4 linked regions of the Homo sapiens genome follow. The protein of the gene in region 1 purifies or fractionates together with the protein of each later gene. This does not show direct contact. Each region holds a gene or a part of one and is shown in the gene's direction. Other genes may lie near its edges.

Region 1 (3,500 bases):
AGTAGCCTCGGGTCTGGGCCAGCTCCATGGCACAGCTTGTGAGGCTCCTAGAGACCTGCTGCTACTTCTCTCCCTTCAGATCCTTCTCTCGTTTCCCATATCTGAGCCCTCCATTCCAGTCGCCACGCACCCCTGCATTCGGCCCTGGCCGGCTGTCTCCCGTCGGCCTCTTGCCCTGGTGCCTGCTGGCTTCTTGGTACCTGAGCTGCCTTCCTCCTCCAGCCTCACCCAGCAACAATGTGGCGTCTGTGAGTGCTTCCTTGAGCCTGGGCCTCTCCTCCCTCCCAGGCTGACTTAGGTGCCCCTGTAGGCTTCCTATAGGCTGTTGTTTAATTGTTGTGTTTATCTGTGTCCCCAGTACACGGTGTGTCTTTGGCCTAAATGGAGCCTGGCACGCGGCAATCACGCAGCATGTGCTTGTGGAATGAGTGCGTGAGTCAGTGGGACTCCTGACTGAGGTGTCCTGCACTCTGGATGGCTGTCGGGGATGCTGGAGAAGGAATTTTTGCGTTTGATGGGGCTTGAATCAGATCAGTGGTTTTTTACCCATAATTTTATTATTGTGTTAAAGTCCATAAAACATAAAATTTGCCATCTTAACCATGTTGAAGTGTACACTTCAGTGCTGGTAAATTCATTCATCTGCAGCCATCACCACCTTCCATCTCCAGGACTCTTCTCCTTGCAAAACAGACTCTGTCCCCATGAAACACTAACTTCCTCTTCTCCCGTACCCCAGCCCCTGGCACCCTCCATTCTACTTTCTGTCTCTATGAATCTGACTACTCTAGGGACCTCGGATAAGTGGGGTCATAGAGTGTTTGTCATTTTTTTGACTGGCTTATTTCACTTAATATAATGTTCTCAAGGTTTATCCATGTTGTGGCATGTATCAGAATTTCATCGCTTTTTAGGGCTGAATAATATTCCATTGTAATGGATATACCATATTTTGTTTATCCACTCAACTGTCAATGGTACAGTTTGCTCCCACATTTTAGCTATTATGAATAATACTGCTATGAACATGGGTATACAAATATCTCTTCAAGACCCCGTTTTCTATTTTTTTGGATAAATACCCAGAAGGGGAATTATTGGGTCATATGGTAAATCTGTGCCTAATTTTTTGAGGAGCTGTTATACTATTTTCCATAATGGCTGCATCATTTTACATTTCCACCAACAGTGCATGAGAGCTTCAATTTCTCCTTATCCTTGCCAATGCTTGTGGTTTTGTGTGTTTTTTTTTAGGAGCAGCCATCCTAATGGGTGTGAGGTGGTTAGATAAAATCTTAAGGCACTTATGGCTGGGATTCTATGATCCCATTAGAAGTTTAAGGTATTTGTAGTAGAGTTGCATGGGTCAGCTTTATTAACCTTGAACACACACATTCACATTTGACAGCTTGGGTAGACTTGAACCAGGATTCATTTAGCTTGGGTGGACGCTACTGTTAGTGACCAAAGTGCTGAAAGTAATAGTTATCAAGATATGCTGTGCTTTGTATGTGATAATAACATGTTCAAAAAATATTTTATCCTTTGAATTTCATTGTAGACAGAGAATCTGTCTCATGAGCTATCTTTGAATGGCGATGTTCTATTTGTTACGTGTGCGGATCTCATTTCACCTAACACCTCATTTCCTTCCATTTGGACGACAAGCTCTCTAGTGACGATGCGGTGCGGAGGGTTTTAGCTGGAGAGAAGGGAGAAGTGAAAGGCCGGGCCTCACTGACCTCAAGATCTCAGGAATTGGATAATAAGAATGTGCGAGAAGAAGAGTCCAGAGTTCACAAAAATACAGAGGTGAATTCCAAGTCGCACATCTTTGAAAATGAAATAGTGAGTCTTTTTGTAGTTTAGGTAAAAATATTCATAAATGATTTTATTTTTATTTCGTAGGATAGAGGAGACGCTGAAATAAAAGAGAGAAGTACAAGCAGAGATCGAAAACAGAAGGAAGAATTGAAAGAAGACCGCAAGCCAAGAGAAAAGGACAAGGACAAGGAGAAGGCCAAGGAGAATGGCGGAAACAGACACAGAGAAGGGGAGAGAGAGAGAGCCAAAGCCCGGGCCAGGCCAGACAACGAGCGACAGAAAGACAGAGGCAACAGGGAGCGGGACAGAGACTCCGAGCGCAAGAAGGAGACAGAGAGAAAGAGTGAGGGGGGGAAAGAGAAGGAGAGACTGAGAGACAGGGACCGAGAGCGCGACCGGGACAAAGGGAAGGACAGGGACAGACGGAGAGTGAAAAACGGGGAGCACTCCTGGGACCTGGACAGGGAGAAGAACAGAGAGCATGACAAACCTGAGAAAAAGGTAAAGTCTTGCTGAGAACCTCGCCTTTTGCTTAGCAAGAGTTTGTGGTGGTCTCAAACATGATTTTTACCTTTCTTACAATATGACTAGGAAACTGGTTTTCTTTTATGCCTATTTAAAATGATGACAATCTTGGATTCTCAATAGAAACCCAAAGAGATACTTATTTCTTGTCAGTTGTGTTTTGGGTTTTTTTGTTCATCCCCTAATAGAAGTTTATTGTTCAGCCAATCATTTATTAAGGCATTATTCAGTGAGTTTTTAACCATTTCCTACTTCATGTCCAGGGAGAATTCTGCTGGATTATAAGCTCCCTAAGAGCAAAAGCTAGAGATTTCACTCATGTTCACTGTTGGATGCCCAGTCTGATAGAGTGTCTGACACATAGCAGCTTTGCAGTAAATATTTGGTGGTGGAATGGATTGAGCATCCAGGCAAGGGGTGATGGGCTTTTCAGATCATGAAACACTGGATGGAATTGATCAATTGATGGTGGTTTCTGAGGTCTCCCTTTATGGAATTTTGATCTGGGAGTGGTAGAAGATAATTTGAAGGGGGATGTCAGGAAAATATTAAATGCTTGCTCTTTTTAGGGTTTAATGATTCCCCACCAGGCATGTAGAGAAATCAACGTTTTTCAGAGTTTGAGCTGATTTGCCAAGTTGCTCTTGTCCTTGTCTTGCAGGTGTTTTAAGATGTGTTGCTTCTCCCGTGCGTGTCGTTTGTGTCATTTGTGTCACTCTCAGTATTGCTCTGAAGGCTTTGGAGCAGCCTCCACCTTAGCATTGCAAGCGGTGTTTATGCGCAGTCTGAGTTGTGCATGTGGTGTCTTTAGGAGCATGGACATTGCTCAGTTATTAAGGATTAGGGCTGCTTTCAAGGGCTTTTAGGCATCAGCAGATAAGTACAATAAGACCTGAGTTTACTGTAATTATTGTTTAATTAAATTTTCAGGTAAATTTAGGGTTTGCCAGGAAGTCCTGTTGGTTTCAAACTGTTTTCTCAATGTGTGAATTCTTTCTGGACCCACCATGTGTGTTGGGGACGTTTTCCCAGACACCCAGACACGCATTCTTTGGGGGATGTCAAATTGTAAAGCATCCCGCGAAGATGTTGGAAATCATCTTGTCTCCAGCTGCTAGGAAGGAGGACACTGAGGTCGGGAAGGGATCCAG
Region 2 (3,500 bases), on another chromosome or scaffold:
CTGGGTGTGCCTGTGGTCCCAGCTACCCAAGAGGCTGAAGTGGGAGGCTCCCTTAAGCCTTGAGAAGTCGAGGCTGCAGTGAGCTGTGATCACGCCACTGCACTACAGTCTGGGTGACAGAGTGACAGTGTCTCAAAAAAAAAAATATATATATATATATATATATACACACACACATATAAAAGAAATTAATTTTGAGATAGCTAAATTAAATGCCATATTAAGAGCAGGAGGCTATTCAGCAATGCTGCTGAGAAGAAGACAGAAGGACGTGGGTCCTTCTAATGTAACTATGTGTGTCGGGTTAGTGATATGCACCTCGAAGGAGAAATTAAGACAGCACATTGCCATGTTAGTTCACACTTGCCAGTATTTCAGCATTTGTCAGGCAATGGAATGTTCAAGCGAATTTTCCACGAGGCTGACTTTAAAACATTTCATTTTAACCATTATGATGAGAAGTCTTTCTAGAACACTCCATCATTTGATGGCCCATGACTGAACCTCTCTTGGATGTTTTCAGGGTCATTATTACGGGTGTTAATGTTTGGTCTTCTGTTTTAATATGTAGGCTCCCGTAGGGCCATTGAAATGTGAAGAATCCTTCGTCTATGAAGTGTCCCCACATCAAAACTGCATTGTGAGTGTTTATATTTTTGGCCTCTCTTACTGTGGCCTTAACTTGCAGGTCTGTCTGGAGCCCTGTTCTCTCCTTTCCTAGTTTGCAGATGTGGCTGGGAAACTTGTTAGCATCAAATTGTTAGAATGAGATGGATTTCATATGGGGCCAGTAGTCTTCCATGAGCAAAGCTCAGGGTGAGGGCTTCAGGCCCATATTTTGACTATTCCGAGGTGCCCTTTCGCTTTTTGTTCTTTTTCTTTATGTTCAAGGAGTTATGTTTCCTGATGAATGAAGTATCAGTATATCATAGTAGAGAACGATTAGACCAGGTTCTGGAACACAGGAAACCTCAAGAAACAGTGAGTGTTGAGAATGCCAGAGCTAAGAACTCAGACATTTGTGAGGGAATACAGGTCTTTCTGTTCAGAATGTTCATGTACTTAAGAATCTTCTCGCCAGGCGCGGTGGCTCACGCCTGTAATCCCAGCACTTTGGCAGGCTGAGGCGGGTGGATCACCTGAGGTTAGGAGTTTGAGACCAGCCTGACCAACATGGAGAAACCCTGTCTCTACGAAAAATACAAAACTAGCCGGGCGTGGTGGCGCATGCCTGTAATCCCAGCTACTTAGGAGGCTGAGGCAGGAGAATCGCTTGAATCTGGGAGGTGGAGGTTGTGGTGTGCCGAGATGGCGCCACTGCACTCCAGCCTGGCAACAAGAGCGAAAACTCCGTCTCACACACACACACAAAAAAAAGGGAAACAAAGGTAAACTGGGAAGGAACCGTGTGTAATCTTCCGTACCTTGCATTTTCCACTTATATTCTGGGGTTTGTTTCCTGTCGCCACAGAGCTCTGGTATTCCATAGCGAGGATGTTTTGTAATTTATGTAACCCTCTCATGGCGGACATTTAGGTTGTTGCTGAGTTTCCCCAAGATAACAGACGGCATTGCCAACAGTTTCTCACACCTTCACCAGTGCTAGAATGACAGTATTTAAAACATCTGTCAATCTGGTAGTGAAAATGCTATCTCGTTTTAAAGTGCATTTCCTTAGTTATGAGTGTGGTAAAACATCTTTTACTAGGACGTAAAGCCATTGATGTTTCTTGTTTTTGTGAATGGCCATTTTTCTCTTGAACCAATGGCCTTTTTCTTTTTTTTTTTTTTTTTTTTGAGATGGAGTTTTGCACTTGGTGCCCAGGCTGGAGTGCAGTGGCGTGATCTTGGCTCACCGTAACCTCTGCGCTAGCCCTTTTAAATAACTTTTAAAAATTGAGACAGTGTCGGGCCAGGCACGGTGGCTCACGCCTGTAATCCCAGCACTGTGGGAGGCCGAGGCGGGCGGATCATGAGGTCAGGAGATCGAGACCATCCTGGCTAACACGGTGAAACCCCATCTCTACTAAAAATACAAAAAATTATCTGGGCATGGTGGCGGGCGCCTGTAGTCCCAGCTACTTGGGAAGCTGAGGCAGGAGAATGCCGTGAACCCAGGAAGCGGAGCTTGCAGTGAGCCGCGATCGCACCACTGCACTCCAGCCTCGGCAACAGAGCAAAACTCCATCTCAAAAAAAAAAAAAAAATTGAGACAGAGTCTGACTCTGTTGCCCAGGCTGGAGTGCAGTGGCGCCATCTCACCTTACTGTAACCTCCGCCTCCCGAGGTTAAGCAGTCCTCTCGCCTCAGCCTCACAAGTAGCCGGGATTACAGGCACGCGCCACCATGCCCGGCTCATTTATTTTTATTTATTTATTTATTTATTTTGAGATGGAGTCTCGCTCCGTCGCCCAGGCTGGAGTGCAGTGGTACAATCTTGGCTCACTGCAACCTCCGTCTCCCAGGTTGAAGCATTTCTCCTGCCTCAGCCTCCCTAGTAGCTGGGACTACAGGCACCCGTCACCACGCCCGGCTAATTTTTGTATTTTTAGTAGAGATGGAATTTCACCATGTTGATCAGGCTGGTCTTGAACTCCTGACCTCATGATCCATCCGCCTCAGCCTCCCAAAGTGTTGGCATTACAGGTGTGAGCCACTGCTCCTGGCTTTCTGGCTAATTTTTGTTTTTTTTTGTATTTTTAGTAGAGACAGGGTTTTGCCATGTTGGCCAGGCTAGTCTCAAACTCTTGACCTCGGGATCTGCCCGCCCCCACCTCCCAAAGTGCTGTGATTACAGGCGTGAGCCACGGCACTAAATTTTATTTTAGAGGCAGGGTCTTGCTTTGTCATCCGGGCTGGAGTGCAGTTGTGCGATCCTGGCTCGCTGCAGGCCTGACCTCCTGGACTCAAGTGATACTCCTGCCTCATCCTCCCAAGTGGCTGTGACCTCTTCCTCCCAAGGAGCATGTGCCACCATGCCTGGCTAATTAAAAAACATTTTTTTTAGAGATGGGGTCCCACTATATTGCCCCGGCTTGTCTTGAACTCCTGGTCTCAAGTGATCCTCCTACTTCTGCCTGCCAAAGTACTGGGATTACACGCAGGAGCCGTCGTGCCTGGCCCCCAGTTTTTTTCTTAATGTGTTTGTCTTTTTTTTTTTTTTTTTTGAGTTAGAGTCTCGCTCTGTCTGTTGCCCAGGCTGGAGTGCAGTGGCACGATCTTGGCTCACTGCAGCCTTCGCTTCCCGAGTGCAAGCAAGTCTCCTGCCTCAGCCTCTGGAGTAGCTGGGATTACAGATGCCCGCTGCGACTCCCAGCTAATTTTTGTATTTTTGGTAGAGACGGGGTTTCACCATGTTGGCCAGGCTGGTCTCGAACTCCTGACCTCAGGCGATCCACCCACCTCAGCCTCCCAAAGTGCTGGGATTACAGGCATGAGCCACCTCACCCGGGTGTTTGTCTTTTGACTTAAATTTTTATGTGGTCCTTATATTTATGGCC
Region 3 (3,500 bases), on another chromosome or scaffold:
AAGTGTCCAGGTGACAATCTTAACTTCCAGTTTAATGGAATCATTGTTGTGTCTCCTGGTGGCAGCATTCTTCCCTCTGGAATTAAGACCTCTAGGCCAGCAGAACATAATGTTGCAGGAGAGGAAGCAAAAATTTTGCTAGTGGATCACTAGGGGTGATGGTGAGTGGTGCCACTTCCAGTTCCACCCCTCGATTCCTGGACCTGTGAATCCTGGCTATGGGAGAAACAGTACCTTATATTGGACGCTGATTCAGAGGATACACGGCCTTCTGGAGGACTTTCCCACAGTTCTGCAAAGTATTGTCACCTAGTTGGCGTTGTAATTGTGACTTCAATAGGCCATTCCACTGTTCTGTCAATCCAGCTGCTTTAGGATGATGGAGAGCATGGTAAGACCAGTGAATTCCATGAGCATGAGCCTACTGCCGCACTTCTTTAGCTGTAAAGTGAGTGCCTTGGTCAGAGGCAATGCTGCGTGGCATACCATGATGGTGGATAAGGCATTCCATGAGTCAGCTGGGTGCGGTGGCTCACGCCTGTAATCCCAGCACTTTGGGAGGCCGAGGCAGGCAGATCACTTGAAGTCAGGAGTTCAAGACCAGCCTGGCCAACATGGTGAAACCCTGTCTCTACTGAAAATACAAAAATTAGCTGGGTGTGGTGGCGGGTGCCTGTAATCCTAGCTACTTGGGAGGCGGAGGCAGGAGAATCACTTGAACCCGGGAGGCGGATGTTGCAATGAGCCAAGATTGTGCCACTGCACTCCAGCCTGGGCAACAGAGTGAGACCCCTTCTCAAAACAACAACAACAACAACAACAACAAACCAAAAAAACATTCCACAAATGGTAGTCTTGGTAGAAGCATTGCATACAGGATAGGCGAACCCATATCCAGAGTAAGTGTCTATTTGAGTGAGGACAATCCTCTGCCCTTTCCATGATGGAAGAGGTCCAATATAATCAATCCGCCACCAGGTAGCTGGCTGATCACCCAAGGAATGGTGACATACTGAGGGCTTGGTGTCGGTCTCTGCTGCTGGCAAATTAGGCACTCAGCAGTGGCCGTAGCCAGGTCAGCCTTGGTGAGTGGAAGTCCATGTTGCTGAGCCCAAGCATTACTTCCATCCCTGCCACCATGGCCACTTTGTTGGCCATGGGCGATGGCAGGGGAAAGAGGCTGAGTGGTGTCCACAAAATGGGTCATCCTATCCACTAGATTATTAAACCCCTCCTCCGCTGAGGTCACTTGTTGGTGAGCACTCACATGGGATACAAATATCTTGTCTTTGACCACTCAGAGAGGTCCATCCACATACCTCTTCCCCAAATTTGTCACCAAGTTTCCAATCATGCTCCTTCCAAGTCCCTGACCAGCCAAACCATTGGCTACAGCCCATGAATGAGTATATAATCACACATCTGGCCATTTCTCCTTCCATTCAAAGTGCACAACCAGGTGCACTGCTCGAAGTTCTGCCCACTGGGAAGATTTCCCTTCATTGTTGTCCTTCAGGGATGTCCTAGAAAGGGGTTGTAGTGCTGCAGCTCTCCACTTTCGGGTGTTGTCTGCATATGATGCAGAACCGTCTGTGAAGCAGGCCCTAATCTTCTTTTCCTCTGTCAGCTGATCATAGGGAACTCCCCATGAGGCCATCAGTGCAGGCTGGGAGAGAGAAGGCAGGGTGGCAGGAGTGGAGGCCATGGGCATTTGAGCCACTTCCTCATGTAATTTACTTGTGCCTTCAGGACGTGCTTGAGCCCGATCACGTATATACCACTTCCATTTGATGATGGAATGCTGCTGTGCACAATCCACTGTATGGCTAGATGGGTCTGAAAGCACCCAGCTCATGATAGGCAGGGCAGTTCAGGTCGCATGGTGACTTGATGACCCATAGTCAAACATTCAATTTCCACTAAAGCCCAGTAACAGGCCAAGAGCTGACTCTCAAAAGGAGAGTAGTTAGCTGTAATCAGCACTTTGGGAGGCTGAGGTGGGCGGATCACAAGGTCAAGAGATCGAGACCATCCTGGCCAACATGGTGAAACCCCATCTTTACTAAAAATACAAAAATTAGCTGGATGTGGTGGCACGCACCTGTATTCCCAGCTACTTGGGAGGCTGAGGCAGGAGAATCGCTTGAACCTGGGAGGTGGAGGTTGCATTGAGCCGAGATCGCACCACTGCACTCCAGTTTGGCAACAGAGTGACACTGCGTCTCAAAAAAAAAAAAAAAGGAGAGTAGTTATCTGTAGAAGATGGCAGGGCCTTGCTCCAAAATCCTAGAAGTCTCCATTGCGATTCACCTATGGGAGCCTGCCAAAGACTCCAAACAACATCCCCATCTGCCACTGACACATTAAGCACCATTGGATCTGCTGGGTCATATGGCCCAGGTGGCAGAGCAGCTTGCACAGCAGCCTGGACCTGTTGCAGAGCCTTCTCCTGTTCTGGACCCCACTCAAAACTGGCAGCCTTTCAGGTCACTCAGTAAATGGGCCGGAGTAATACACCCAAATGAGGAACGTGTTGCTTCCAAAATCCAAATATGCCCACTAGGCATTGTGCCTCTTTCTTGGTTGTGGGAGAGACCAAACACAACAACTTATCCTTTAACTTAAAGGGAATATCTCAACAGGTCCCACAACACTAGATCCCTAGAAATTTTACTGAGACAGAAGGTCCCTGAATTTTAGTCGGATTTATTTCTCATCCTCTGGCATGCAAATGTCACACCAATAAGTCCAGTGTGTTTGCTATTTCTTGATCACTGGATCCAGTCAGCATAATGTCATCAATGTAATGGACCAGTGTGATATCTTGCGGAAGCGAAAAGCGATCAAGATCTCTCCAAATAAGATTATGACACAAAGCCGGAGAGTTGATATACCCCTGAGGTAGGACAGTAAAGGTATATTGCTGGCCTTGCCAGCTGAAGGCAGATTGCTTCTGATGGGCCTTATGGACAGGAATAGAGAAAAAGGCATTTGCAGAGTCAGTGGCTGCATAGCAGGTACCAGGAGATGTGTTAATTTGCTCAAGCAATGAAACCACATCTGGTAACAGCAGCAGCAATTGGAGTCACCACTTGGTTAAGCTTATGATAATCCACTATCATTCTCCAGGATCCATCTGTCTTCTGCACAGGCCAAATGAGAGAGTTAATGGGGATGTGGTGGGAATCACCACTTCTGCATCTTTCAAGTCCTTGATGGTGGCACTGATCTCTGCATACCTTCCAGGGATGTGATATTGTTTTTGATTTACTATTTTTTTAGGTAGAGGCAACTCTAAGGGCTTCTATTTGGCCTTTCCCACCATGATAGCCCTCAACCTAGCAGTCAGGGAGCCAGTGTGGGGGTTTTGCCAGCTGCTAAGTATGTCTATGCCAATTATGCATTCTGGCACTGGGGTAATGACCACAGGATGAGTCCAGGGACCCACTGGGCCCACTGTAAGTCAGACCTAAGCTAAAACTTCATTAATTACCTGACTT
Region 4 (3,500 bases), about 210 Mb from region 1:
CCTATAGTCCCAGCTACTCGGGAGGCTGAGGCAGGAGAATGGCATGAACCTGGGAGGCAGAGCTTGCAGTGAGCCGAGATCATGCTACTGCACTCCAGCCTTGGGCAACAGAGCAAGACTCTGTCTCAAAAATAAATAAATAAAATTAAAAAAATAAAAATAAATAAAAATAAAAATCTGCCACTGTCCCCCAGCCCTTGCACACACACACATACCCATTTCTACACACAAAGCCTGTTTCTCCTCCCTTTGGCCCCACTTCCAGTGACTTTCTCTTCTAGCTATGCCCTTCTCAGATCCCCTTCTTCCCTCTACCTCTAGAACTTCAATATCTACAAAAGGATCTTCACTGACATGGTGAGCTCTCCTGGAACCAACTGTGCCGAGGCCTATCATAGCTGGGCTGATCTTCGAGATGTCCTCTTCAACCTGGTGAGGAAGCGAAAGGGCTGCTCCGTCTGTCCTTGTCCTCATCTCTTCTTTGATGCACATAAACCTTTATTCTCAGATGTATTTTACCTTCCTCTGCCAGGTGGCTATCAGAGACCACTCTATGGCCCTGGCACTCCTCTGACCCCTGAGCCAGGCTGTGCTGTCTCCCTCCTCTAGTGTGAAAACCTGGTGAAGTCCAGTGAGGCAAACTCTCCAGCCCATGAGGAGTTCAAGACGATGCTGCTGATCGCTCATTACTATGCCACGCGCTCTGCAGCCCAGAGTGTCAAACAGCTGGTGAGATGTAGGGGGTCGAAGGAACACTCAGTCAGAAGGGCTCATCTGCAAATGTATAAAGCTGAATTGATTCACGTTCTGGATTCTTCAGCTTGGGCTCTTGAATCTCCCCACCTGTCTTTCAGCTTCTCTTCTGTCTAAACAAATCTTTAGCCCTTGCTGAGGTTTTCTTCTTCCGACCTTTTTAGGGCTCTGTGCCCACACAGCCTCAGCCTCATTATGTTTAAACATCCAAATCCCATGATTTCTTTATTCACCTCTTATAATGTACACATATTCTGGGCTTATTTTTGACTGTTCACTGTATATTTATTTCATGTACTTGGATGATAGAATTCTAGAAGTGGAAAGAACCTTAGAAACAATCTAGGTGGGTGGGTGTGGTGGCTCACCCCTGTAATCCCAGCACTTTGGGAGGCCGAGGCGGGTGGATCACTTGAGGCCAGGAGTTCGAGACCAGCCTGGCCAACGTGGTGAAACCCCATCTCTACTAAAAACATAAAAATTAGCCAGGTTGGCCGGGCGCGGTGGCTCACGCCTGTAATCCCAGCACTTTGGGAGGCCGAGGCGGGTGGATCATGAGGTCAGGAGATCGAGACCATCCTGGCTAACAAGGTGAAACCCCGTCTCTACTAAAAATACAAAAAATTAGCCAGGCACGGTGGCGGGCGCCTGTAGTCCCAGCTACTCGGGAGGCTGAGGCAGGAGAATGGCGTGAACCCGGGAAGCGGAGCTTGCAGTGAGCCGAGATTGCGCCACTGCAGTCCGCAGTCTGGCCTGGGCGACAGAGCGAGACTCCGTCTCAAAAAAAAAAAAAAAAAAAAAAAAAAAAAATTAGCCAGGCATGGTAATGTGCGCTTGTAGTCCTAGCTACTCAGGAGGCTGAGGCACGAGAATTACTTGAATCCGGGAGGCAGAGGTTGCAGTGAGCTGAGATGGCACCACTGCACTCCAGCCTGGGCGAAAGAATTGAACCTAGGCCCAGGTGTCTTGTTCAGAGAAAAAGAAAAAAAAAACTAAGACCCAGAACAGCTTGAGAATCCAGAGCAGTTTAATAATAATTGTTGTTTTTTAGTTCTGTGGCTGCCTTACAGGATCATTGGTCTGGTAGCTCAGTCACTTTAGTGCCATATTCATAATGCTTTGACTTTAATCCCAGGAAACCGTGGCTGCCAGGCTTTCTGTTTCACTCTTGCGTCACACCCAGCTACTACCTGTAGACAAAGCCTTCTATGAAGCAGGCATTGCTGCCAAGGTGAGCTGGGACAAGGAAGGGTGGGGCAGATAGGAGGAAGTTAAAGGTTGGAAAATAGAATATCCCTTCTGCTCTGGTAGAGGAAAGCTGAGTGTAGGGCTGATGTTACGGAGGATGTAGTCCTCCTATGTCTTCCTGGATTTTTCTCCCTGGATCCCAGAGAAATAGCATTCAAGCCCAGCTTGCTCACTCCCATTTGCATCTGGATCCCAGAGAAGTAGCATTCAAACCCAGCTTGTTCACTCCCATTTGCAACTCTTCTTTGCTGCAGGCAGTTGGCTGGGATAACATGGCATTCATCTTCCTCAATCGCTTTTTGGACCTGACCGATGTGAGTAGGGAAGCTGTGCCCCGAGGGTGGAGGTTTTTGCCAGTCGCGAGCTGTGCCTAGTTCATGGTTGCCCACTCTACTGCAGGCAATCGAGGAAGGGACTCTAGATGGCCTTGACCACTCTGATTTTCAGGATACAGACATTCCCTTTGAGGTGCCACTCCCAGCTAAGCAGCATGTACCGGTAAGGGCACAGGGTTGGAAAACCGGAAGGCCTCACCAGTGTGAGTGCCTTGAGGAGGGAGAATATCTTTGTGCTGCCATCTTTGGAAGGACCTCAGCCCTCACTGTTTTTTCAGTGAAAGTAGAAGCAAAATAGAAAGAAAAGGCTGTGACTGCATCCCCCAATCCAAGGAGGATTCGTGGCTAAAAGCTGGTATACAGGATGAGGGCTTAGCAAACCCCCTCCTCACCCATCCACCCCAACTTGTCCTGCCCTGCCCTGTGTGAAGCTACCACTCCCTTCTTGTCCTTTCCAGGAGGCTGAGAGAGAAGAGGTTCGAGACTGGGTGCTTACAGTCTCCATGGACCAGCGGCTGGAGCAGGTTCTGCCTCGGGATGAGCGTGGCGCCTACGAGGCCTCCCTAGTGGCAGCGAGCACTGGTGTTCGAGCCCTGCCCTGCCTTATTACAGGTATAGAAGCCTACAGCACCCCAGATCCTGTGGTGGGTAGAAAGCAGCAGGATCAATAAACTTAATTTTACTAGGATTCAGTAAAGGGTACAAAAGACAGGACTGTGCTTTCTACCCCCCAGGCTGCTCCTCATTTTTCCCTCCTCAATCTCTCTCAAACCCCAGTTCATCATTTTTTCTTCCTCCACAGGATACCCCATTCTGAGGAACAAAATTGAATTTAAGCGGCCAGGGAAGGCTGCTAACAAGGACAACTGGAATAAATTCCTTATGGCCATCAAGGTTAGAGAGGAGGACTTGGAGAATGAAGGCAGAGAGGGCAGCACTAAAAAAAGAAAAAAAAACAAGTCTGGGTGCAGTGGCTCATACCTTTAATCCCAGCACTTTGGGAGGCCAAGGTGGGCGGATCACCTGAGGTCAGGAGTTTGAGACCAGCCTGGCCAACATGGTTAAAACCTCGTCTCTACTAAAAATACAAAAGTTAGCCGGGTCTGGTGGCGTGCACCTGTAATCCCAGCTACTCAGGAGGCTGAGGCAGGAGAATCGCTTAAA

What was found. The genes of interacting proteins can lie anywhere in the genome.
Region 2: the proteins of TRAF3IP1 (region 1) and TRAP1 purify together in Homo sapiens (affinity purification with mass spectrometry; one study listed by BioGRID and IntAct). This does not show direct contact.
Region 3: the proteins of TRAF3IP1 (region 1) and MAP4 purify together in Homo sapiens (affinity purification with mass spectrometry; one study listed by BioGRID and IntAct). This does not show direct contact.
Region 4: the proteins of TRAF3IP1 (region 1) and IFT172 purify together in Homo sapiens (affinity purification with mass spectrometry; one large-scale study listed by BioGRID and IntAct). This does not show direct contact.

The regions. Positions count from the first base shown.
Region 1 is NC_000002.12:238,327,018-238,330,517, forward strand, and holds part of TRAF3IP1 (TRAF3-interacting protein 1), read left to right. Parts: intron 1-1,668; coding exon 1,669-1,812; intron 1,813-1,908; coding exon 1,909-2,325; intron 2,326-3,500.
Region 2 is NC_000016.10:3,707,525-3,711,024, reverse strand, and holds part of TRAP1 (heat shock protein 75 kDa, mitochondrial isoform 1 precursor), read left to right. Parts: intron 1-622; exon of another isoform or gene 623-640; intron 641-3,500.
Region 3 is NC_000003.12:48,006,417-48,009,916, reverse strand, and holds part of MAP4 (microtubule-associated protein 4), read left to right. Parts: intron 1-3,500. UniProt on the Homo sapiens protein: Non-neuronal microtubule-associated protein. Promotes microtubule assembly.
Region 4 is NC_000002.12:27,444,744-27,448,243, reverse strand, and holds part of IFT172 (intraflagellar transport protein 172 homolog), read left to right. Parts: intron 1-321; coding exon 322-432; intron 433-609; coding exon 610-729; intron 730-1,762; exon of another isoform or gene 1,763-1,888; coding exon 1,889-1,984; intron 1,985-2,255; coding exon 2,256-2,315; intron 2,316-2,400; coding exon 2,401-2,499; intron 2,500-2,794; coding exon 2,795-2,948; intron 2,949-3,138; coding exon 3,139-3,230; intron 3,231-3,500. UniProt on the Homo sapiens protein: Required for the maintenance and formation of cilia. Plays an indirect role in hedgehog (Hh) signaling, cilia being required for all activity of the hedgehog pathway.